Homo sapiens: one gene and its partners. The protein of the gene in region 1 interacts with the protein of each later gene in a pairwise test. Each region holds a gene or a part of one and is shown on either strand. Other genes may lie near its edges. The genes, in order: RNF112, A2M, PARK7 and ELAVL4.

Region 1 (6,887 bases):
TTACAGATGATAACTCGAGCTGGGTTTACCAGCTAACATCATGTAAGGGGTACTGGGACATTAAACTAAGTGGGTGTTACTTTTGATTTTGAAATTTTCTTTTTGTGGTTTGGAGAGTCTCATTTTTCCATTAGGTTTCAAACATTCTCATAGACCGTAGACTCAAGAGACTCATGGAGCATAATGGATAAAGCGGGGCTGCCCATAGACATGGACCCAGGACCACCACACCTGGCCTCCCTGGGCCAGGGGTTCCCCTTGGGGCCCTAGATAGCATCAGAGGCCTCTGGCTGCAAAGGAGCAGGGCCCATCCTTTATCCCATCCTTTATCCAGGAGCAGGCCTGGTGTTCCTCCCGTCTCCTATCCACCTGGTCGGCCTGTACCGTGCCTTGGGGAATGCCCTCTTTTAGGTGCCCGGGTATGATCCCAAGTGGATCTGTATTTCCACTTGTGGCCTTGACTTCCCCAGCAGCACCCTCAGCCTCCCCGCTTGCCCCTCTAGTCTGTTGTCCATACAGCAGCCAGAGTGGGAGGGGCCAGCTTCCCAGGTATGCATCCAGTGCAGCCACTCAAGGCGAGAGCTCAGAAGGGCTGTGTGCTTGGGCTTCAGTGCTCTGGTCACCATCTTGAAACAATCATTTTAGCATTGAATTTGTGCTTTGTGAGTGAAGTCTGATGGGAAAATGGCGCCTTCACTGGGAATTCGGAAGCTGGTTTGTGTGTGTCCCATGTCCCACTGCCTCCCCAGCACAGGCTCTTGGCTGCCCACTCCCAGGCTCCCAGTGTCCCCACCTCTGCCCCACCATGGCTGCCCCCCTTCATCTGGAGGCCTGAATGCAGGCTCAAGGAGGACTGGGGACTGCTGGATTGGCCCCTGGCATCTTAGGGTGTGACAGAGTGGTGGCTCTCCCCTCCCTGGGCTGAAACTTAGCATAGGCTTCTCCCCGACCCCCAATCCAGGTATTGAGCGTGTCCTAAAATGACTGTGGCAATCTGGAGGGGCTGCCTGTTGGCCATGTGTGGAGGCAATGTGCCATTAGAAGAGGCAATGGACTTTCTTGCCTCTGGTGGGGGCTTTGCAGTTACATTTTTCACCAAATCCACAAATTGTATAGCTAGCCTGGCCAGGCACCATGGCTTATGCCTGTAATCCTAGGACTTTGGGAGGCCGAGATAAGCAGATCACTTTGAGCTCAGGAGTTTAAGAACAGCCTGGGCAACATGATGAAACCCCGTCTCTACAAAAAAATACAAAAAGTATCTGGGCATGGTGGTGTGCACCTGGGGTCCCAGCTACTGGAGAGGCTGAGTCTGGAGAATTGCTTGAACCCAGGAGGCAGAGGTTGCAGTGAGCTGAGATCACACCACTGTACTCCAGCCTGGGTGACAGAGTAAAACCCTATCTCAACAACAACAACAACAACAACAAAATTGGCCAGGCGTGGTGGCTGACACCTGTAATCCCAGCACTTTGGGAGGCCAAGGCAGGCAGATCACCTGAGGTCGGGAGTTCAAGACCAGCCTAACTAACATGGAGAAACCCCGTCTCTACTAAAAATTCAAAAATTAGCCAGATGTCATGGCACATGCCTCTAATCCCAGCTACTCAGGAGGCTGAGGCAGGAGAATCGCGTGAACCTGGGAGGCGGAGGTTGCAGTGAGCCGAGATCATGCCATTGCACTCCAGCCTGAGCAAGAGCGAAACTCCATCTCAAATAATAATAATAATAACAATAATTAATAAATAAAATTATATAGCCAGCCCTAAGAGTGAGGCTTCTACCATACATGTTTGCCCTGCGGGATCCCTCCTGAGATACTGACTGGTGAAGTCCCTATCCCCTCCTTTGGCCCCTGAGGGCCTGCATGACCCAGGCCTGCTCTGCCCTTCACCTTGGTGCACCCATCTTTGCATCAAATATTCCTGCCAGGCCAGCCGGACCTCCTTTGTTCCCCAGAATGGGTTCTGTGTCCCCTCTCCTCTGGGCCCTGTACCTGTGGTTTGCCCTGCCTTGACAACCTTTTTCTACCTCCTTGCTTATCAGGACAGCCTGACACCCCTCCTCACCCTCCCCGCATCCAGGTTCTCACCCAGATCATAGCAATGCCTTTTAATTGTCCAGTTGGGATCTTGGGGAGGATGGAGCTTTGTCTCTCTTGTTTCCAGCTGTACTGCAGTGTGAGACACAGTACCTGGTGCTCAGTAAGTATCATTAAGTGAAGACTGATTGTCCCATCTGCTTCCTCACATCTTTGCCTGGTGATGAGCAAATGGAAGCTCAGAGAGGGCAGTGACTCACCAGCATTTCATGCTGGGATGGAGGCAGGTTTAGAGCTTGAATCTGAGTCCAGCGCCCACGCTTTCTCTCCTGCAAGGATGAAAGGCTACAGGGGTTGAGAAAACCCTCCCTTCTGCCCTGAAGGCAGAGCTGTGGCACGGCTCAGGCTTGCTTCCTCATCCCCTGAGTGTGAGGCTTTGCTGCCAACACACAGGGGCTTGTCCCACCTGGGGCAGGAGGAGGCAGAGTCTATGGCACTGCTTCTCTGAATCTGATTGATTCAGCCCCACAATCTCAGGCCCTCCAGACACCAAAATGAACAAGATCCAGCCCCAGCTTCAGGGGTGTCTCCACCTGCTGAAGGTGGTCTCTGCTGAACTTTTCTAGGTTCTGAATCCCACCTCACCCCAACCCTTCTGCATCCTAGCTCATAGGATGTACGAATGACTCCCGTGCCTGGACTAGTGGCTTTACATAGGTAATGGTGGCTCCTCAGAGCACAGAGAGGTGCAGTGGAGTCCCAGAGCCCCTGAGCCGAGAATCAAGCCCAGATCTGCCTGGCTCTGAAGCCTGGGCTGCGCCAAGCCTATCACATATCCCAGCCCTCAACTGTCCAAGAACAAGACCGCACCCAGTTGGGAGGGGTGAGGAAAGGAGGCTCTAGGGAGGCCACAGCACCTGCACTGGGCCTAAGAGGGTGTCCCAGGAGGGATGAGAAGGAGCAGAGCAGCCAAGCCAGGGTGCAGAGGCAGGGAAGAGTGGGGCGAGAGAAGGGTGGAAGGAAGGTTCAGCCCAGTCCGCAGGCCGGAGAGTTTGGATTTTGATCTGATGGTAGTAGGGAGACACAAAAGGTGTTTGCGCAGTGTGAGGTCATCTGTGCTTGGGGAGCCTATGCTGGCTGTGCACTGGGGAGTGGAAGGGAGGCAAGGAGCCCAGTCAAGAGGCCATTAGAAGGTCCAGAGGTGGCTCATAGTTTTGATAGATTTCATCCTGCTCAAGTTTGAGGCAGAGTGAAAGCTATTGGGAGGGAAATACACCAGAGGACACGGAGGGCCCATGAGTGCTGAAGAAGGCTGCAGCTGGGTTGGGCGTCGATGACATAAACCTGAGAGAGAGCAGGAGGATGTGCAGGGCCATGTGAAGTAGGGTCTGCATTTGGGGGCTCTGTACATAGTAGGTACTCAGTAACTGTTCATTGGATGAATGGATGAATAACTCCTTGTCTCTGGGTCAGCTCTGGTCTTACCCTCTCCTGTTTCTCACACCTCTTCTCTTTGCCCACCCTGTCCTGTGGCCCTGGGGAGACCTCAGCTGGCCCAGTAGAGGCAGTGCTGGCCCATGGTTCTGCCGGAGGCGCCTCCATGTTTGCGGGTGCACCGCACGCCTTCTCCCTCTCTGTCCCCCTCCCCCTCCCTGTCCTTATCTTTCCCTTCTGTCTCCATGGCGACTCACCACCTCGGCTTGCCTGCATCCCAGCCTCTGCCAGGGATTCTGAGCCGGGCTCCATCCCTCCCTCCTCGGAGCCCTGCTACCCGCAGCCGTGTCTCCTCCCCCTGGGGTGAGTCCAGCAGCAGCCTCCTCTTTCCTGACTGTCACATTTCTTTTCCAGCTCTGACCGGGAGTCAGCTCCTCGGGGATACCATCCCCCGACCTCACCTTCTACCTACCGCAGCCTGCTAGCCTTTCCGGGAGAAAAGGCATCCTTACCTCTGGTTGAAGGTCTCGGGGCCTCCCCCTCTGCATCCGGACCCTCTCCCCATCCCAGCCTCCCATGCCAAGGCCCGCCTTGTCAGTCACTTCCTTTTGTCATCGGCTTGGCAAACGGGCAAGTCTTCAGTCCTAAGATCGGGAAGGAGAGTGGGGTGGGAAGGGCCCTCCTTGGGCTGGGGGATGGGCCGGGGGTGGGGAGGATGAGGGGTCCCTGGAAATCCAGGGTGAAGATAGAAGTCTGGATTATGTTCTAAATCTTTTTTTTTTTTTTTTTTCTCCAAGGAGAGAAAACAGAGCTTCATGGGAAACAGCGGCAACAGTTGGTAAGTAGCAGGGCCTTCCAGGCTGGGATGGGTGCAGTGAGGCCAGGCAGGTCAGTTGAAATGGCCGGTCCTGGAACACAGAGCCCGGCAGCCCAGCCGGGAGGGCTGTCCGCCTGAGGCTGGATCCGCCAGGCTGTGGAGGGAGGGACAGGAAGAAGCAGGTGGGTGCTGCAGGGAGGCAGATGCCAGCTCAGAGCAGAGAGCGGAAGGAATCTTCTAAGATCCAGAGCCATCTGCCCAACTGCAGCACAGGCTGATGGCTTCTCCTCACTGTCCCTGTAGCATGGGGTTGTGGAGGGTATCATCCCTGGGGGCCTGGCTGAAGTCAGCACCTCATGGAGGGAGCCCCGCTGTAGAACGCCGGGAGAGGCTCTTCCCAAGCATTTGCACCAGGCACTGTGCAGACAGCTGCACACGCCTCCTCTCGGATGGCCACCCCAACGGCCCCATGAGGGGTATTGCTATCCTCTCCATTGGGACAGTTAGGAAATTGAGGCCCAGAGAGGGGAAGGAACTTGCTTGCATTTGCATGGCTGGGATGTGGTGGAGTCCATTCCACTCAGATTTTCTCCCTCTCAGACTCTCTCACCATTGCTCTGCTGCCCCCACTCTGAGGCCCCCAGGTCCTAGGACACATGTCAGTGAGGAACGGGCAGAGCTTGGCCTCTCTGGGAGCAGCTCCGCCTGTCCATGGAGGCACTGATGGAAATTGGGTTGGCACAAAGGGACCTCCACTCCCAAGCCATCAGTCTTCCACCACAACCCTGGCCGGTACCCCCTGCCCCCAATAGACATCCTGCTTTTCAATGGCCTGTTTTGCCCCACAGGTCCCATACACCTTTCCCCAAGTTGGAGCTAGGCCTGGGGCCCCAGCCCATGGCGCCCCGGGAGCTCCCTACCTGCTCCATCTGCCTGGAGAGGTTGCGCGACCCCATCTCGCTGGACTGTGGCCACGACTTCTGCATACGGTGCTTCAGCACACACCGTCTCCCGGGCTGTGAGCCGCCCTGCTGTCCTGAGTGCCGGAAGATATGCAAGCAGAAGAGGGGCCTCCGGAGCCTGGGCGAGAAGATGAAGCTCCTGCCGCAGCGGCCGCTGCCCCCTGCACTGCAGGTCTGGGGACTGGGCCTAATCAGTCAGACCCAAGAGGAGGGGGTGGCTTTGGCCCTATTCTAGAACATCAGGACACAGAGCTCCAGGCTGAACACATTCCAGGGTCAGGAGCTGGTCCTGGATGCTCAGGGGCCCCTCTCTTCTCCTGGCCCAGGAGACGTGTCCTGTGAGGGCGGAGCCGCTGCTGCTGGTTCGCATCAATGCCTCTGGGGGCCTCATCCTTAGGATGGGGGCCATCAACCGCTGCCTGAAGCACCCTCTGGCCAGGGACACCCCAGTCTGCCTCCTCGCTGTCCTGGGGGAGCAGCACTCAGGGAAGTCCTTCCTCCTCAACCATTTGCTTCAGGGCTTGCCGGGCCTGGTGAGGGCGGGGCGGGGCAGGAGGGAGGCGGGGAGCAAGGATGGGGGTTCCTGCCTGGGGGAAGCTGGGTCTGGTATTCCGGTCTGTGGGGACAAGGAACCGACCAACTGATGCTCTCCCTTCTCTCCCCTGCAGGAGTCTGGTGAGGGCGGCCGGCCAAGAGGAGGAGAGGCATCCCTGCAGGGCTGCAGGTGGGGCGCCAATGGCCTCGCCAGGGGCATATGGATGTGGAGCCACCCCTTCTTGCTGGGGAAAGAAGGGAAGAAGGTGAGGGGGGAAGTGGCAGAAGGAGGTCAGGGATGGGAAGGGGAATCAAGAAGGGCGTCTCTGGGGTGAGGATAGAAGATGGGGATGGGACGGGGCAGGGTTGGGAAGAATGTGGGAGAACAAGGCAGGCCTGGCCCCTTGGGTCTTTCCCTACCCCCTGCATAGGTGGCGGTGTTCCTGGTGGACACAGGGGATGCCATGAGCCCTGAGCTGAGCAGGGAAACAAGGATCAAGCTCTGTGCTCTCACCACGATGCTGAGCTCCTACCAGGTGATGGGGGGCGCTGATGTTGGCATCCCCACCCCACACACCCTTCTCCAGCTCAGCTTCCTCAAGGCCAGAGCATCTCACAGGCTTTGGTGTCTGGGGTCCTGATAGGTTCTGGGGCTGCCTTAGAAGGGGGAAGGTGCTCCTAGTTGGTGAAGGTGGGAACGTGGGTTATTCCTAAAAGTGGGCTGATGGTCCCAGGGGCAGCTGAAGACCTGATGGATCACATTACCCTCCAGGCTTGTCTCCGGCCTTGAGGCCAGCCCAGCCCTGCAGCCTTCGAGGCCCCCATACTGGCCTCTCCCATACTCTGAGGCCCACAGGCTGCCTGCGAGCTCCCTACTCACCAGGGCCTTCCCCAGTGAAGTCACCCGGCCTCTGTAATCTCTCATACATGTTGTTCTCTCTGATTCCAGATCCTCAGCACCTCCCAGGAGCTGAAGGATACAGACCTGGACTATCTGGAGGTAAAGAGACCTCTGATGTTGGGGCATCCCCCACCCCCACCCTCCCCACTAGGGCTGGACCCAAAGGAACTAGGTGCCCTCCTGGTCTGGCCTAGGGTT
Region 2 (3,746 bases), on another chromosome or scaffold:
TCTGAGAAAACGTGCTTCTGCATGAATCCTCCCTTCATTATTTTCAGCTCATCTATTATTGAATCTGAAACCCCAGGTTAACTGACTGATCACTCTCATCAGTGGCAGATTTTGGTGTAACATAGGACACATCACTCCCAATTCAGGTCAAGTCCCAATTATCTTGCCTCTCAATATGACATGTTCAATGTTGTATTTCATTCTACTTCATTTTAATGTAAAAAGTCTTTTCTGGTGAAGTCAGTCTTTTATTTTCTCATAAAAATTCACCCTTTGGGTTTTTCATAGGGTATTCCCATAACCAAACACACTTTACACTTTCCTAGTACATAACCCAATACTTTCTTCTTTCCCCACAGTCCTTACATGAAGCCTACTCAGACCGACATCACTGTATCATTTTTTTGTATTCTGAAGTCCTTCAGCACTTGATTCCTTTAAGTTTAATCTTGGTATTCTATTGGGAATCATATGGAAATGTACAATGATATTTATTGAATGAACAGGAAACAGGGAAAGACATTGACCAGAAAAAGTGTTTATTCATCAAGTCTTTAAAGATACAAAAACACGTGTCTTCTGTGGAGCTCTGAGAACAGGACTCCAGCAAAGCACTTTTCAGCCTTGTGGTCTTCAAGCATTTCCAAGATCTGTGACATTGGAAAGAAAAAAAATTAAGACAGATTTGGGTCTCCATGAGCAGAGAGTATTCTTTCCCTTAGTTCTGGGTAGCATAGTGCCCAAGGAAACCTAATCAGTACAGTGGGAAACCAAATCTATTCCAAATCATTACCCATAAGCAATCCTATGGACTCTCTGAGGTTTGACAGAGTCAGCGGCCCTCTCCAATAAATGTGTTTTTCTATAATAATGTGCAGTGTGAGTAATTTGATGTTTTTGACAAATATTTACCCAGCGTTTTATGAAGGAGAAGGTTTGGGGGGCAAGCTGAAGGAGCTCTGACTGCCTTTTGGAGGAGTGTGAGTGGCTTACCTTTGCTGCAAGGAGCATTGTACTCAGCAATTGCAAACTCATCTGAAAAAAAAAAAACCAACAAAAAACCAGAAATCATTACATGAAGTGAGAAAGAAAGCAAACATCTGTGGGATACAGGCCAAGGAAGGAGTTTGTTGTGGGAAGAACAGTATTGTACCAGAAACATAAGCATCATTCATCTGATGTGTTGCTTGCTACCTTATATTCTCCTTTCAAATATAGTGTTTTATATATTCTTTTATCCCAAACTCCTGAAGGACTCTTCAGATGTTCTACTTACTTAAATCTCATATTGTCATACAGTCCATTTATCTGATGAAAAGGGAACTAAATATCCCACAGGTGTTTTGTATTAGTAGTTGATAAATTTATAATGTAGGTTGTTTCTATAATGTATGTATAAGAGACAAAAAGAGGGGCATCAGACTTGATGGAGACAAAATGAAGTGATAATGTAATTACTTAATGTAATAAATAACCCCAACACATCTCCTAAACCTGAATTTCTGTGATCAGGAATTAAATATTTCTACGTGAAAATCACTCTCACTCACCCGTCTCGTAGTAATCATAGACTTTCACTATGGCTGGTTTCAGATCTCTTACTGGGACATCTTGCAGAACCGTGAAGAACAAGCTCAGTGTCTGATTTGACACCTGGAAAGCAAAAGTCAATTAAATGACCTTTCAGGAAGCTTTCTTCTCTCTTTGAATTAGTTTAAGTATTCACCTGTTTTTTGGGGGAAAAGCTTTATTATCCTACAGCACACTATAGGGTCCTTAATTAAATTGTGCAGAAATCTCTCAGAGGGGATGATAAATTCTCCAGATTATTTCTTAAATAACTAACATAACGCATATACCTCTGTCAATGCCAATACATAGCTCTGTTCATGGGGGTAAATGATATATACTTTTTATTGGATGACTAACTGTGTTCATTTTTTAATATCCAGAGATTTGGTATAGTTTGACTTCTCTGTCTTGCAGGAATACTTGCGTAGACTCAAAGAGGCATCTAAAAGGTTGATCTTCCCAGGCTTAAGTTTCATAAAATTTGTAAACTATAATTCCCATCAACTTATGCATGAACAAACTCTCCTACCACACATATCTATAAAATCAGATTGGTTTACTGGTGAACTGGTCTTATTATTTTATGGTTCAAGTCCTTGTGGAGACTGACAGTTTTTTTTCCCTTTCATATTGTTGTTGAGTATGTTGATAATTAACTAATAATTGACTAATCACAAGGGCTACTTCCTTATATTACTGGGTATCCAAAAAACTTGTCAACATAATAAACACATTTTGTGAAGATTTCTTGCTTATGGGATTTTAGGAATATTCATATCCCAAGATCATAATAAGCCATTTCTACCTGTAATCCCTGGTGAAATATAAATAAAGGAGAGAAGAACATTCTTTTAGAGTTAACATTAGAATTCTCAAATTTCTAGCATGGAAGTGATGTTTCTAAAATGCATTTACCTTCCCAGATGTTCCCTTAGAGGATTATTATCTACGTTTTTTTGCAAATAGACTGGAAGTTCTCTTACCTTATCAAGGTAAATCAAGACATGGTTGCTGCTGACTTCTGTCCGGCTCACATGGTTAGATCTTTCAAGCTGAAGAAAATTGAAATACCACAAATGTTAATAAATAGATGAAACCCCTGGGGGATCCAGAGAAAAAATCTTTGTATTGCCAAAATAACCCTGAGGGTAGAATTCTTCAAATGCTTTTTGTAAGGAAATATATAATGTAATACAATTAAAAATGAAAGGCATAAAGGGTTTACTATTAGTATAACACACGACTAATGTGTAAAGTTATTTATCTGAAGAAAAGACAGCTAAGTATCCTAAACTTGGTAGTTACTCATATTTCAAAGTTCAATTCAGTTTCTATTTCTTCATAAGGAGTTTTTTTCCTGTTTTGCTTGCTCTATTTTTCTTTTAACTTCTGTAATACTTATAGTTTATGCCAATCAGTCATTTTCATATTTTTCACTGGTTCGTGTTCATATCTTTTATCTTCTTAGCAAAATTCTAAGCTAAGAAGAAATTGAAAAGCAGGAACCTGCTGACAATCTTTTTCTTGTAGTCATGGGTCCTAGCACAGTGCTCTGCACATGGTCAGCATTCATACAAACACATGTGATTATATTTCTGAGCTGGAAAAAGGATAAGGCTTTGATAGAGATTGACTTTAATAGTATTTTGATATTAGTATTGTCTTATGCTGGGGATACATACATCATTAAATAAAATAGGGCAGTCTGGGGTTATGATAAACCTACCATTTTCACTGTTGGCTTCAGGGGAATGAAGCCAGAGACCATCTTCACATCAACGATCGCCATGTTGGAGGCAGAGCGGCTCCCTGTGTAACTGAGGATCCAGGGGAGGAAAGGATTAGGGTTTTCTGTGTTTTTAAATATTTTCTTCTTCTATGTCCATGTTAAGCATTCCACAGCTCTAAAAGGTACACGTAAGTCTTCCCAAATATCTTATCCCAGTGGTTTGTAAAAGTGGTGTGCGTAGAATTTTTAGGAAGCCTGTTAAAGCCACAGAGACCAGGCCCTACTCTAGACCTGATGAATCAGAATGTCTAGTGTATGGGGGCTGAGGATCTGCATTTTTTTTTTTTGATGGAGTTTTTCACTCTTCTTGCCCAGGCTGGAGTGCAATGGCATGATTTCGGCTCACCGCAACCTCCGCCTCCTGGGTTCAAGTGATTCTCCTGCC
Region 3 (7,034 bases), on another chromosome or scaffold:
GGCTGAGGCGGGCAGATCACCTGAGGTCAGGAGTTCAAGACCAGCCTGGCCACCATGGTGAAACCCCATCTCTACTAAAAATACAGAAATTAGCCAGGCGTGGTGGCGGGCGCCTGTAATCCCAGCTACTCGGGAGGCTGAGGCAGGAGAATCGCTTGAACCCGGGAGGCGGAGGTTGCAGTGAGCCGAGATTGTGCCGTTGCACTCCAGCCTGGGGGACACGAGCGAGACTTCGTCTCAAAAAAAAAATAAAATAAAATAAAATAAATATTTGTCAGAAGAGTGAATGAATAAACGAATGAATGAGTGGATGGTTTGGTAAACATCAACATCAAAACATGTTGCTGTTGCTATTTTGTTCAATACAGTAGGCTTTTCAAAAGAAGTTATGGGCCAGAGGTCCTGGGGACTTGATACATTCGAGTATCAGTGGTTCTCAATGTTCTTTTGGTGCACTTGCAAGGTCAAAGCAGATGCTACTGAGGGGCCAGGTGTGGTGGCTCATGCCTGTAATCTCAGCATTTTGGGAGGCCAAGGCAGAAGGATCTCTTGAAAGCCAGGAGTTTGAGACTAACCTTGGCAACATAGCCAGACCCCCATCTCAACAAACAAACAAACAAAAAATTAGCCAAGCACAGTACTGCATGCATGTAGTCCCAGCTACTCAGGAGGCTGAGATGGGAGGATCGCTTGAAGGCAAGAGTTAGAGGCTGCAGTGAGCTATGATTGCACTCCAGCCTGGGCAGCAGAGTGACACCATGTCTTTCAAACAAAATGTTATTCGCCTTTTTTCTTCTCAGTCTTTCAGGAGTGACATCAGAGTAGGATGATACCATCATCTGAGAATTTATTATTGTGTTTTAAAAATTTCCCAGTTTTATTAGGTTGATGTAAAAGTAATTGTGGTTTTTGCCATTAAAAGTAATTGGCGTGGCACAGTGGCGCATGCCTGTAATCTCAGCACTTTGGGAAGCTGAGGTGGGCAGATCGTTTGAGGTCAGGAGTTCAAAACCAGCCTGGCAAACGTGGTGAAATCCCGTTTCTACTAAAAATACAAAAGTTAGCTGGGCATGGTGGTGCACGCCTGTAATCCCAGCTACTCGGGAGGCTGAGGTGGGAGGATCACTTGAGGTCAGGAGTTCGAAACCAGCCTGGCTAACATGGTGAAACCCCGTCTCTACTAAAAATACAAAAGTTAGCTGGGCAGTTAGCTGGGTATGGTGATGCATTCCTGTAATCCCAGCTATCAGGAGGCTGAGGCAGGAGAATCTATTGAACCCGGGCGGCGGAGGTTGCAGTGAGCCGCGATTACGCCACTGCACTCCAGCCTGGGTGACACAGCAAGACTGTCTCAAAAAAAAGTAATAATTTTTAATATGGCAGATGTTCATAGATATAACCCACATAAAAGCTAAAGGGATTCTAAGACCTAAATGTTTGAGAACCGTGGCATTAGGGGCTGGGAAGAACCACAGAGGTTGACCACCCTGGCAGGTCTTGTACGTGGGCTTACTACAAGAGTCACCACTAGCCTTTTGACCTGCCCTGAGGCTCAGGTAATTATCTCTGCCAAAGGGCACTGCAGTCACTGCAGCCCAAGCAGCTGCTCCCCTCTTTGGAGAGAAAGTCACAGATCCTTGAGTTTGGTTTTCTTTGGCTCTGCTGCTGTGAAGCAAGCCTCAGTCCTAGATTCTTTGACCAAAGGAAGAAAGAGTTTGGGCTGAGTTTGTTTCCTTATGATTCTGCTGAAAGTAAAAACCACATGTCAGTTTGTCCTGTGCCACAAAAGTAGCAAAATCACTTAAGGTCAGGAGTTCGAAACCAGCCTGGCCACCATGGTGAAACCCCATCTCTACTAAAAATACAGAAATTAGCCAGGCGTGGTGGCGCGTGCCTGTAATCCCAGCTGCTTGGGAGGCTGAGGCAGGAGAATCGCTTGAACCTGGGAAGTGGAGGTTGCAGTGAGCCAAGATTGCGCCATTGCACTCCAGCCTGGGCAACAAGAGTGAAACTCCGTCTCAAAAAATAAATAAAATAAAATAATAAAAATAAAAATAACAAAAATTAGCAGGGCATGGTGGCGCATGCCTGTCGTCCTAGCTACTTGGGAGGCTGAGGCAGGAGAATCGCTTGAACCCGGGAGGCGGAGATTGCAGTGAGCCGAGATCGTGCCACTGCACTCCAGCCTGAGCGACAGAGCAAGACTTCGTTTCAAAAAAAAAAAAAAAAAATCAACCACATTTGGCTTACTGTTTTGTGCTGAGGCTAGATGGAATGCCATGCTAAGAAGCATGGGCCTTATAGTACTTTAAATCAACATTAAAAAATAAACAGGCTGGCTGTGGTGGCTCATAGCTGTAATCCTAGCACTTTGGGAGACTGAGGTGGGAGGATCACTTGAACCCAGGAGTTCAAGACCAGCCTGGGCAACATAGTGAGACCCCCCCACCGACCTCTACAAAAAAATATTTTAAAAAATCAGCCTGGTGTGGTGGTGCACACTTGTAGTCCCAGCTACTCAGGAGGCTGAGGTGGGAGGATCACTTTGAGCCCAGGAATTTGAGGTTACATTGAGATGTGGTGATCACACCACTGCACTTGAGCCTAAAGGACAGAGCAAGACTTGGTCTCTTAAAAAAAAAAAGTAAAAATAGGCCAAGGGCGGTGGCTCACACCTGTAATCCCAGCACTTTGGGAGGCCGAGGCGTGCGGATCACAAGGTCAGGAGATCGAGACCATCCTGGCTAACACGGTGAAACCCTGTCTCTCCTAAAAATACAAAAAATTAGCCAGGCGTGGTGGCGGGTGCCTGTAGTCCCAGCTACTCGGGAGGCTGAGGCAGGAGAATGGTGTGAACCTGGGGGGCAGAGCTTGCAGTGAGCCGAGATTGCGCCACTGCTCTCCAGCCTGGGCGACAGAGTGAGACTCCATCTCAAAAAAAAAAAAATTATATAAAAAACAGTAAAAATAGAAAACACACTAGCAGTGTGTTTATACCATTGAATATCCTGCACCACTGTTGTGGGCACTACACCAGAAATAGGAAAAAATGTGATGATGAGCTGAGCTAATTGAGATGAGGGTTATGGGAATGGAACAGAGGAGTGATGGAAGAGATTTGGATCTTTTAAATTGGCAAACAGAAAAATAAGATTCTTTTTTTTTTTTTTTTTTGTTGAAATGGGAGCTTTGCTCTTGTTGCCCAAGCTGGAGTGCAGTGGTGCAATTTCGGCTCACTGCAACCTCCACCTCCCAGGTTCAAGCGATTCTCCTGCCTCAGGCTCCCGAGTAGCTAGAATTACAGGCACCTGCCACCATGCCCAGCTAATTTTTGTATTTTTGGTAGAGACGGGGTTTCACCATGTTAGCCAGGCTGGTCTCGAACTCCTGATCTCGTGATCCGCCCACCTTGGCCTCCCAAAGTGCTAGGATTACAGGCGTGAGCCACCGCACCCAGCCAAGATTATTCTGAAGTGTTGCAGTTAGGGATTGGAAACATTTTGAACACAAAGAATATTAGCCTAGTCCTTAATATTGAGTGAATGAGGAACGCAAATTGGAAGGGAGTCTATGTTGAGAAGAAAATTAAATGATATTTACTTTGAGTAGGGGAGGGGGAGGAAGTGTGGAGTTGGAGGAGTGGACAGTTGTCAGCTGAGATGCCCAGGTCTAGGAATGAGGCCTCTGGAAGCAAGGTCTTGGCCACCTGGAGGAGCTGGGGAGTTGGCAGAGGTGGTCATTTTGCATGTTACCACAGGGTGGTGCTGTTGGCTGCAGAAGGGGACATGGTCAGCTGCGCCCTCTGCACTGTAGTGCAGAGTACAGAGCGTTTTCATCCATCAGAATCCCAGGTCCTGGGAGAGTGAAACGTCTCTTCTCCAGTATTCCAAATAGGGTTCTGACGCCCCAGAAAGCAGTGATTATGAGCTTACCTGATAAGTATGAAAGACATCAGTAAATTCCTGAATCCAACTGTAACATAAATTTATTCACATCGTAGCAGTGATTTTATTACCACCTTGAAGGGAGCAGCCTAAAAATTCTCGTTCACCGATCACTTTCCTCACTGTGCTATCATCTATTAAAGTTTACTTTAAAATGCAAGATGATGTAGGAATTTCTTCTTAAATTCTTACCAAATAAAAATTAAAAACAATTTATAAATCCATTCAAATAAAAATTGATAATTATTCAATTCTTACGGACTTCTAAAATTTGCTACCATACATAGCTGTCTTGTGTGTAAAAATAACGTGGAGAAGAGACATTTGAGGCTTTTGATTTAAGAGCTATAAATCAGGACTTGGTCTGAAACTGACAGCTGATATTAGGCAGAAAGCTTATGTAATTAGGTAGTATTTGTGTGATCTTCCTGTTTGTAACAGCTACGGTCTGAGTAGCTTGTGGGTATATTATATAATTCCTTCCTTGGAGTCTTGTTGAAAAATGAAAGGACAGTAAGACCAAGACCTCTCAGGTTTGCTGACACTAAAAGTGTACAAACTGTGCCACAGGATCTTAGCCATCCAGGGCACCTTAAGTGTTTCCAAGATCAAGGTGCTGTTCTGAAACGTATCCTTCTAAGTGTCATGTGAGGCCTTAGAAAGAATGTTTATATGTGTGGCTTAGAGGAAAAAGGTAGAATGAATACTTTGTAAAAAGCTTTAAGATGAAATAACAATGAAAGGTATATAAAATCTTTGTTTTTAATCCTTATTTAGGACCATTACATACGCAATATGCTTGTGACCCTCCCTGAAGTTGGCCGTTTTCAGTGAATACATTTAAATAAAAATCTCAAGTTAGGACCTGCCAATTTGGAAAGACTTCATCAACTGACACTTCCATGTGGTTCTTTGCTTAAGTAGCTTTCATCACGTGATGCTAGTGCCTTTATATCTCACACTTCCAGGCACTTCACAGGCTATCTCCTTCAAGGACAGTGTGCTGTCCATTTTAATCCTACCACCTGGCATACTTGGGTGGATAGGTGGATGAACGAGTGTTAATTTCCCATTTTATTTATTTATTTTTTATTTATTTTGAGACAGAGTCTCGCTCTGTCGCCCAGGCTGGAGTGCAGTGGCACGATCTTGGCTCACTGAAAGCTCTGCCTCCCGGGTTCACCCCATTCTCCTGCCTCAGCCTCCCGAGTAGCTGGGACTACAGGCGCCCGCCACCACGCACAGCTAATTTTTTGTATTTTTAGTAGAGACAGGGTTCCAGCGTGTTAGCCAGGATGGTCTTGATCTCCTGACCTCATGATCCAGCCGCCTTGGCCTCCCAAAGTGCTGGGAATACAGGCATGAGCCACCGTGCCCGGCCTAATTTCCCATTTTCAAGTAGAAAATAAGATTACAAAAGAGCAATAAAATCCAGAAGTTCAGAGAGTACCAGTTGCCTTTAGCATGTAACTAAATCTTTCCTTTTACTAAGAGTGAGGTAAGAAGTTGAGCCCGCCCCAGTGATCCTCCCCCTCCTTTGGACTCCTGGTATATGTGGTCCCTGTTCTGGGGATGGGGAAGGTGAGAGAGGTGAGCACATTTTGTTTATCTGTGTATGCTCTGCTGGTATCAAGGTAAATCTTCTTGAGTAAATGGTTATTGAAGTATTTTGAGTTTCTGTGCTTTTGCCAGATGTGCTCAGCAAATCGTTTGTTATAAACATACTTTATCTCTCATACTAGGAAGTGTTTCATTTCAGAATCGTAGCTGTATGTTTGGTAAGAGCCTCTTGATTTTGAAGAATACTTTGCTGTTGCAGTTTTTGTTGTTGTTAGAGAAGGGGTCTGTGTTGCCCAGGCTGATGTTGAATTCCTGGGCTCAAGCAATTTTTCTACCTAGGCCTCCCCAATTGCTGGGATTACAGGCATGAGCCACTGTGCCAGGCACTATTGCGATTTTTTAAACATGGGCTTTTCTATATCTGCACTTAGATCTTTTTATTTTTATTCTTAGGTCCTACTGCTCTGTTGGCTCATGAAATAGGTTTTGGAAGTAAAGTTACAACACACCCTCTTGCTAAAGACAAAATGATGAATGGAGGTAAGTATATGCTTGTTTTTGTTTGTTTGTTTGTTTTTTGAGATGGAGTCTCGCTCCATCGCCCAGGCTGGAGTGCAGTGGCGTGATCTTGGCTTACTGCAATCCCTGCCTCCCGGGTTCAAGCGATTCTTCTCTCTCAGCCTCCTGAGTAGCTGGGATTACAGGCGCATGCCATCACACCCAGCTAATTTTTGTATTTTTAGTAGAGATGGAGTTTCACCATGTTGGTCAGGCTGGTCTCAAACTCTTTTTTTTTTTTTTTTTTTTTTTTTTTTTGAGACAGAGTCTCGCTCTGTTGCCCAGGCTGGAGTGCCATGGTGCGTTCTCTGCTCACTGCAACTTCCGCCTCCCGGGTTCAAGTGATTCTTCTGCCTCAGCCTCCTGAGTAGCTGGGATCACAGGTGTGCTCCACCACGCCTGGCTAATTTTTGTATTTTTTAGTAGAGATGGGGTTTCTCCATGTTGGTCATGCTGGTCTTGAACTTCTGACCTTGTGATCCACCCGCCTCAGCCTCTGAAAGTGCTGGGATTACAGGCATGAGCCACCGCGCCCAGTCTCGAACTCTTGACCTTGTGATCTGCCTGCCTCAGCCTCCCAGAGTGCTGGGATTACAGGTGTTAGCCACCGCGCCTGGCCCATATGCCTGTGTGTGGTTTTTTTTTTTTTTTTGAGATGGAGTCTCTCGCTCTGTTGCCCAGGCTGGAATGCAGTGGTGTGATCTCAGCTCACTGCAACCTCCGCCTCCCGGGTTCAAGGGACTCTCCTGTCTCAGCCTCCCGAGTAGCTGGGATTACAGGCATGTGCCACCACAAGTTTCTTGTAGACTGGGCACAGTGGCTTCCGCCTGTAATCCCAGTACTTTGGGAGGCTGAGGCGGGTGGATCGCTTGAGCCCCGAGTTCGAGACCAGCCTGGGCAACATGGTTAAACTCCATCTCTACTAAAAATACAAAAAACATTAGCCAGGCATGGTGATGCACACTGGTAGTT
Region 4 (7,637 bases), on another chromosome or scaffold:
TGATCATGCATCTATTTTGTCCTTTAGTAAAAAACCCTAACAGATCACCATTTCAATTGTTTTTACGCTATCTCCTGTTCACCCAAATACTACACCTTTCAATCCTTATGGTACCCACCATCATGAGAAAAAGAGACTATTAGTAAAGCACATTTAGAGAAAAAAGAGAGATGCTTGTCACCCAGTGCACACATGGGTCCCAGACGTCCAAAGACACTAATATAAAAATCAGCTTTTCACTCAGTTTGTGCCAAGACCAGAATCAGGACCAAATGCCAAATGGAAGGCAGTGGTTATGAGAGTGCAAGCCTGATGGATCCTGTGACTGTGGGCATGGGGAAAGAAGGAAAGCAAAAAGCTCTTCATTTATTATTTTGTAAAGTAATTTCTACTGAGGAAAAAAATGAGAGGTACAATGAATTCCCCTGAAACTATAGTATCAACATCCGATTTAGTAAAAATACCAAAATCACCTAACCCCAAATCATTGCTTAGGGTAGATCTATTCTACCTATATTTTTCCTATGAATATTTGCTGGAAATTTCTAAGAAATCATTTGCAGAACCTATCAGCTGTGGGAGTTCACTATTATGCTTCCGTCAACTTCATTCAATATAATTTACATTTTTTCAAATGGTCTCACAGGATTCCTTGCGATTTTTCGCATGTACAATTTCACACCAGGGAAAAGGGGGAAAAAGGAAAAAAAAAAAAGCAAGATTCCCTACCCTCCCTTCCCCCTCACCTCCTCTCTGGGTTTTTTAAACAACAACAACAACAACAAAAACCACACGCGCACACACACACGCACACACACACAAAAACAGGGGAGACAGAACAGATGCTTAAAAATAGATTTCTAAAAATCACTGTAAACCAGAGTTAGAAATGTAATTAACACCTATTAATAACGAATAATTAAAGTTGGGCTGGCCACAAAGAACAGCAAAGATAATCGAGGTCCTGTCCCCCTCCCCTTTTTTTTTACACTGTTTGCAGTGTGTTCTCATGATAGCCACCTGCTCCCTACTCGGCTTCTCCTCTGTTCGTTTCCCCGGCAACCTTTCATTGGGTTTTCCTCCCAGCTATCGCTTTCAGTTGGGCTGCTCGGTCTAATCTTATTTGTTTTACACCCATCAAAACAAGCAGCCAGACAAAGGCAATCCTCTAAGAATGGGAAAAAGACCACAGCTTTGTTATAACATCTATGCAGAGCAAAAAGTCCTCCCCAGGCTTTTCTAGGGAAAAATAAGTAAGATGGTTATGAATTTACAGCCTGCCCCCATACCCAGCTCTGAAACCTTGTGAAACCTATTGCTGGTGAAAATTCAAAGTCAAAGTGGGCACTCGTGGCATCTAATCATGCCATTTTGTGCCATATCTTCAGGGTCAACATCAGGCGACAGAAGCGGCACTCAAGGAGTTTCCCTGCTTCTTTTTTCAGAAAAAGATGATGCTAAAAATAGATTTACTACTTCGGCAGAAAGGTTTTCCACTTCCCCTTCCACATCCGAAAGTCCTGTTTCACAATTGCATCGGCTGGTACTGAATCTCACCTCCTCCACCCCTCATTCCCATCCTTCCCCATCACTCCTAGCATGAGACTGAAAAAGAAATGTGCCTTTAACTTTAGCAGTCGTGTAATTCCGTTGAAGGCTCACAGAGGCGGTGGACACGCCAGCCAACAGTGACGGTGACATTGATTGTCAAAAAAGACACCAACCTTCCTTGGCTAAAATGTGTGTTTGCTGGAAGAGGCAGTGTGTGTGCCTTGTGTGCATGCAGTGCCATTACACTTGGAGATGGATTCTGGTTTTCAGAAAAGAGAAATACTAATAAACACACACATACATACACACACAAACGATCAGCACAGTGATTTACGATGCACAGTCCAGCATCCTTACACATACACACATACAAGCACACACACACACACACACACACAGGGCTGGGACCTCCAGGCTGCCTTCCTCTTTTCACTTACCATCTTCAAGCCATTCCACTCCATCTGTGATCAGAAGAAGATGGACCCTCACACAGTGTGTCAAAAGCGGAAAGGAACGTTATGTAAAAGCTGACATTCCTTCTTACAGAGCTGCTGCCCAGAGAAGGAAGCAACAACTCAACACGCCAGGCACTGCTACACATACAAGCCGCCTCCTCTTTTTTATGAGGTCATGACAGGAAACTCTTTGAAATACAAGATGCAGCATTTACTGAAGCCCAAATAAATCACTCTCTTTGCCGTTTTGACTGCGCAGTCCCCCGAAACACAACTGCCCATCTCAGTGTTCAGTATCCAGGAGCTGCCTCTCGAGGTTTAAATTTCCAGCACGGAAATTGAGAGATTCCTAACCCCGCTGCATCCACCCCCAGCCCCACAAAACCCAGGCACGTAGACAAACCCCCTCTCCCTTACAAAAAAGAAAACCCTTCTTTTGCCATTATGTCTCAAGTAATATAACCTCTTTCAATAAACCAGCAATTATTTCAGCCCTCCCCCTCCACCCCTTGCCTTTATGTTGAAGGGAAAACTGACAACGACTTGCTAAAAATGACAATCTTATATCCCCATTGCTTTTCAATAAAAGGACCTACCCGCACTCTCTACACAAAAGAGATAGTAAATGTAGGAACCAAACAGCAGCACAGAACTAAACTCTTGTGCAAGCATAAGACTGGTCAAGGTGTAGATGCTTTTCTTCCCTCCAGCAACACAAACAACAGATTATAAATCTAGTCATACCTACCATAACCATTCTTATTGGCAAATATTGGGTCTCGCAGAGCTTCGACTCTTCTGTTAAAATTTGCAAAGATTTCAGAATATATATTTAAAATGACTACTATTGTTATATATAATTAAAGATCCACAAAACACAGTGTGGATGATTGTAAAGCAAATCAATTATTTTTGGGGGGGTGGGCGGGGGAGAGAAAGAAAAAAAAGAAAAGGAGCAGTGAGCTGAAACCCCCGATTCTAGGATGTAGATAAGAACAACTGAACAGAGCCTTGCTGAAATTGGCTCGAAGCTTCCCCTTTTTACATCCATTTATGGGACCATCTGTCAGCCGAAGCCTGGATCTGATTGGCTGGGGAAACGAAGGGAGGCGTTGCAACATCAGGTGCTATTTAAATTAGCTACTGCCAGATTGACGATGTTAATGATTTGGTGACCTCTACAACAACAGAGACCAGATTTCTGAACTGCTTCTTGTGTCTGGTAATTAAGGCCCGGCTGAAGCAACAACAGCCATACTTGTATTTTTACCTTTTCCCTCCTCCCAGCTCAAAAGTACTGTAACAACTGCAGGTCACTGGAGGCTTGCAAACCTAAACTAACAGTGGGAGGGTCCTTCTTTTCCCATCCTGAGGGCCGAACCGTGCCACCTCTCTGATGGAGGGCTTTTCCACCGTAGAATATTTTCAACCACCTTATCTTTCTAGACAGTTGCTTTCTAGCGAAATGCATATTTAATGATCTGCCTGTAGGCTTAAAGGTACAACAAAAGCACTTTAATGTGCTAATTCATCTACAATTTAACTTTATTATTTCCAGATATTGCTGATTTTTAGTAAGTAATGCTCCTTCTCCAGCTAACATGGCCAACATTTCAAAAGCAAGCAAGTTGGGGATTAAGCTTGCTCCGTGAACTAGGTTCATACAAGTTTGTCTCAGAAAACTATTTCCTAATAAACAAAAAGAAAAAAAATGGTGGGGGTAAGGGAGGGGCAGCTGTCAGCCTCTACCTTTCTGCCTTCTGTCTGAGCTTTTCAAAACTGAGGATGATGAATGATTTACTTAAATGAATTTATTTTTCAAGTTGGATAGGAACATGATCTGAATTTTTAAAAATCCACTAAAACACATTCTCCTACCCCTTTAGAGAAAGGTAAAACATGCTTTTGACAACAGCCTCATTTCAAAACCTGTGCAGAGTGTTCATTTTGCTTAACTAAATAAGTGATTTTGCTTCTCTCCTTCAAAGGGATGTCTTTTTTTCTTTGGCCTCTTAAGAGATTTGCAAAGAGACATTTAGCAAGTGTATGGTGAGGTATACAGTTTGTCTGCCTATTTACACATTTAACAACCTCTACACTACCAAGCCTTCAGTAGTGTATTTTTTGTTCTGGTTTGGGTTTTTTAAGTGGCTTACCTGAGAAGTTCATGCTTCACACCTATGCAAAAGACTAATGTGTCACTATTTATTTAACTCATAATTTAATCAATTTGTTCTTCAATAAATACACAGTGGTAACACATATTACCAAATACAAAATTCAATGTAATCTTTAATCTTTGACTAGAGTTGACAGTGAGACAGAACTAGGCAGAGTAGACATACAGACCAAAAAATAAGCTATATTTCTGGGTTTCAAAGTCCAAGAATAAATGGGTTTGTGAAAAATTATTAGGAAAGAAAATAACCTTACATTTTTCAAGATTAAAACTATTCTGTCCAAGATGCTGTTTCATGAACACACACATATAAACATACATATATATTCACACTTCAGAAAATACAGATACATCATAAAACAATATGTGTTGGGTACACTGCATAATCCATTAGACTTGAGTATGAATACGTTCAGCTATTAGAAATGAAAATACATGAAATAGAAAAGTACAAATGTTAAAACTATAATTCCTTAAGGTGGAACAATACTCAGTTAAGTAAACTTTTAAAGTAATTTCTTTAGCAAATGTATAAAATGTCCTGTGAGTCACAATAGTACTACAGTATCTGTTGAACTGTGTACTGAGGGTGAATTCACAGGTTAAAGTGTTCTAAATGGTTCAGCATATATACACAGAGTAGGTATGTGTGCCCCAAATCAACAACATAAACTCTGAGTGCAATTTCACCAATATTAAAATATTGTGAAAAGTAAACATTAAGACAATGCTGACAAACACAAATAAAAACAGCTCACTTGGAACAAAATATTTACTTAGATTTCTCTGGAGGTTATAAAAGATAAAAATTTTAAAAACCCTTTTCTCCCATCCATACTAACCTCAGTACACTTATTGAACCATAAATTAACATTAGGTATATTAAAAGGTATTCTGGCCACTTTTCCAAAATAGTAGCTGTATATACAGTATAAATAACTAGCTGGTTTTGCTAGGCTAAAAATTCATGCATTTTGTATATTGATCACTTTTCCACAAACCTCCACTTTAAAGTCTTTCAACAGAATCCTCAAACAAATGCACAAATGTCCTCAGAGGCCTTTTCTCTAAAGACAAAGGCAGAATCCTATTGTTGGGAAAAGTCAACCTTATTATCGCATTTCCAATAGTACAATTCATCTTTCAGAGTGAGGGGCTGACCGCTACATCAGTGATGTGACATTTGTAAAGCAACAGATTCTCAATATATTATCTCAAGAATCAGGCAGGCGAGTCTCCCAGTCATGCATGATTTTTTTTTTCTGCCACAATCCACCACCACAGAAAGAAACTTGTCTCACTCAAGCAGCTAAGGCAACCTAAAAATGATATCCCAGCACTGTGGGGCTGCCAGCGCCGCTGTATTCCTCTTACCATAAATGAGCAGTTTCTTGACTCATTAATGACAATTTCCCTTAAAAGAAGTAATCTCATATCAGTCAGCCCCTTGCCACCATGCACACATCCCAAAGGTTGCAGATATCTCAGCATCAGTCGCCGGCAGCCAGCTTTCCCACACAGAGTCCAGATGGACTGTACCAGAAGCCAATTCAGCGTTAATAACTACCTACTCCGCGCAGTGGAGAAGCCTTACGTGGCACAATGGGCTAGGAAACAGCAGCCGGCTGAAACTGCAAATAAAAAAAGACAACCAAATTCTCCAAAAGCACCAAAAGGAAGGAACAGAAATGGAAGCGTGAATTGTATTTCCTTGACTTCCATGAGGCGGAAAAAAAGGAATCCTTCATAAATATAGGGAAAAAAAAGAAGAGGGGGGAAAAACAGATGCTGCCCAGAAAAAAGTGACAAAATATTACCTCATTATTTAACAAAGCAGCATTAAGCGTCCTGCTGATTTCAAACATCTTGCCACAGATTTTGTTTTAAGAGAAACAGATAGAATCCTTTGCAAAGCACTCCGTCTGCAAAGGGTTCTTCAATTTTCTTGCGCACCACGGAACAGTCAATATATTATTTCCCTAGAGTTCGTACATTAAAACCTCTAGTCAGTGAGCTGAATTTTCCCCTTATCTCACACACAGTAGACTCCTGTTATATGTACTGCTCTCTTTGCAAGAGCAGCCTGCCCCAAACATGGCTGGTGTTTAAACTACTCTTTAAAGTAACAGTTCACTATATAACCACCAGGTGGGTAGAGTGCACAGATTCAAATGAACCATCTTAAAAGATTTCTTTTTTTTTTCCCCTTGGAATAGCTTTTGGGTGTAAAATGTGACATGAGAAACACTAGCATCTTAACAGGCAAGATTGTCTCTCACTATATCTTGTCAAAATAAATAAATAAAATTCCTTCTCTTGACTTAAAGCAAGGAAATGAAACAAAACAAAACAAAACACTGCCACAAATTCTAATAAGAACTGCGAAGAATGAAACACAAACAAGCTTTGTTTCATTCAGCAAAGGATGAACAAGGAAAATACAATCAACACAGAGCAATGGGGAAGGCCAAAAACCTCATGAAAATATTTCTCTTTAGCAAAAACAGAAAAATATTCACACACAGTGATGAAAACTCAAAAGTGTGCATGTGGATGAAGCACATACAAGATGGAGGCAAGAGTTTAAGGGTGCAACTTTTCTTCTGGGTAGAAATTAGGTTTATTTAATGTGGGTCTTTCCTGATAAGAAATAACTGAAAGCTTAAAAGTAAAGACACCGAAAAAAAATACAAAATATTAAGCCTCTCTTTTAAAAATACAATTATATGAATAGTGATAAACAACCACAAGAGCAAGCCAATCACATGTCTCTACCCATTGCTGTTCTTTTTCCCGAAGATCTGCCTCGAAGTGGAACATTTCTGTCGTATACTATTTTGGATGTATAGCTAACTTGGCATCTCCTTTGTATCACTCTATTCCAATTAATCTGCTCCTCTGCCAAGAATAAACAGAATGTCCCAAGTTGAAAGCTCCAAGTGATTGGGGGTATGTTAAAAGGATATAGAACCACCTGAACAAAAATAAATTACATCACTTATATTGTTATATGGCCTGATTTTAAGGAGGATCTTATTACTTATAAAGCATGCAACACCATTCTATGTTCCACATGTGTCTAAAACAGAAACCAACACACACAGATACCTGGGATTTTCTTTTCTTGGCTGGACAAAATTAAAGGTCTGGAACCTCCACATTTTCTTGCAAACACAGGTGTTGACAGTAATATTTTCCCAGCCCATCCAGGCCGTATTTAGCCATACACAATAGTGACTATGTCCTTCATCTTTAAGTCAAGACGGCATCACTTAATACCATTTAACCTCCTTGCATATATTAAGTTTCAAGTGACAATTTTTAACTGGGGAGTGAGAAGGAGGAGTTGCTCTCATCAAATTCTGGTTGTATGAAATAAGCTAATTTGTACACTCACCATATGTCTTAAACACTAATTAAAAAATGTCACTTTCTTCAAACATTAAAATGTA

What was found.
Region 2: the proteins of RNF112 (region 1) and A2M interact in binary tests that used the Homo sapiens proteins (3 or more experiments, as listed by UniProt).
Region 3: the proteins of RNF112 (region 1) and PARK7 interact in binary tests that used the Homo sapiens proteins (3 or more experiments, as listed by UniProt).
Region 4: the proteins of RNF112 (region 1) and ELAVL4 interact in binary tests that used the Homo sapiens proteins (3 or more experiments, as listed by UniProt).

Annotation. Positions count from the first base shown.
Region 1 is NC_000017.11:19,407,358-19,414,244, forward strand, and holds the start of RNF112 (RING finger protein 112), read left to right. Parts: upstream 1-3,874; 5' UTR 3,875-4,051; coding exon 4,052-4,105; intron 4,106-4,113; exon of another isoform or gene 4,114-4,142; intron 4,143-4,272; coding exon 4,273-4,313; intron 4,314-5,140; coding exon 5,141-5,426; intron 5,427-5,580; coding exon 5,581-5,787; intron 5,788-5,922; coding exon 5,923-6,054; intron 6,055-6,219; coding exon 6,220-6,324; intron 6,325-6,737; coding exon 6,738-6,788; intron 6,789-6,887. UniProt on the Homo sapiens protein: E3 ubiquitin-protein ligase that plays an important role in neuronal differentiation, including neurogenesis and gliogenesis, during brain development.
Region 2 is NC_000012.12:9,067,190-9,070,935, forward strand, and holds the end of A2M (alpha-2-macroglobulin isoform a precursor), read right to left. Parts: intron 3,390-3,746; coding exon 3,299-3,389; intron 2,625-3,298; coding exon 2,556-2,624; intron 1,654-2,555; coding exon 1,551-1,653; intron 1,036-1,550; coding exon 994-1,035; coding exon of another isoform or gene 863-993; exon of another isoform or gene 651-862; coding exon 634-650; 3' UTR 519-633; downstream 1-518. UniProt on the Homo sapiens protein: Is able to inhibit all four classes of proteinases by a unique 'trapping' mechanism. This protein has a peptide stretch, called the 'bait region' which contains specific cleavage sites for different proteinases.
Region 3 is NC_000001.11:7,971,695-7,978,728, forward strand, and holds part of PARK7 (Parkinson disease protein 7), read left to right. Parts: intron 1-5,957; coding exon 5,958-6,044; intron 6,045-7,034. UniProt on the Homo sapiens protein: Multifunctional protein with controversial molecular function which plays an important role in cell protection against oxidative stress and cell death acting as oxidative stress sensor and redox-sensitive chaperone and protease.
Region 4 is NC_000001.11:50,104,316-50,111,952, reverse strand, and holds the start of ELAVL4 (ELAV-like protein 4), read right to left. Parts: upstream 3,034-7,637; 5' UTR 2,764-3,033; coding exon 2,755-2,763; intron 2,121-2,754; exon of another isoform or gene 2,013-2,120; coding exon of another isoform or gene 1,989-2,012; intron 1-1,988. UniProt on the Homo sapiens protein: RNA-binding protein that is involved in the post-transcriptional regulation of mRNAs. Plays a role in the regulation of mRNA stability, alternative splicing and translation.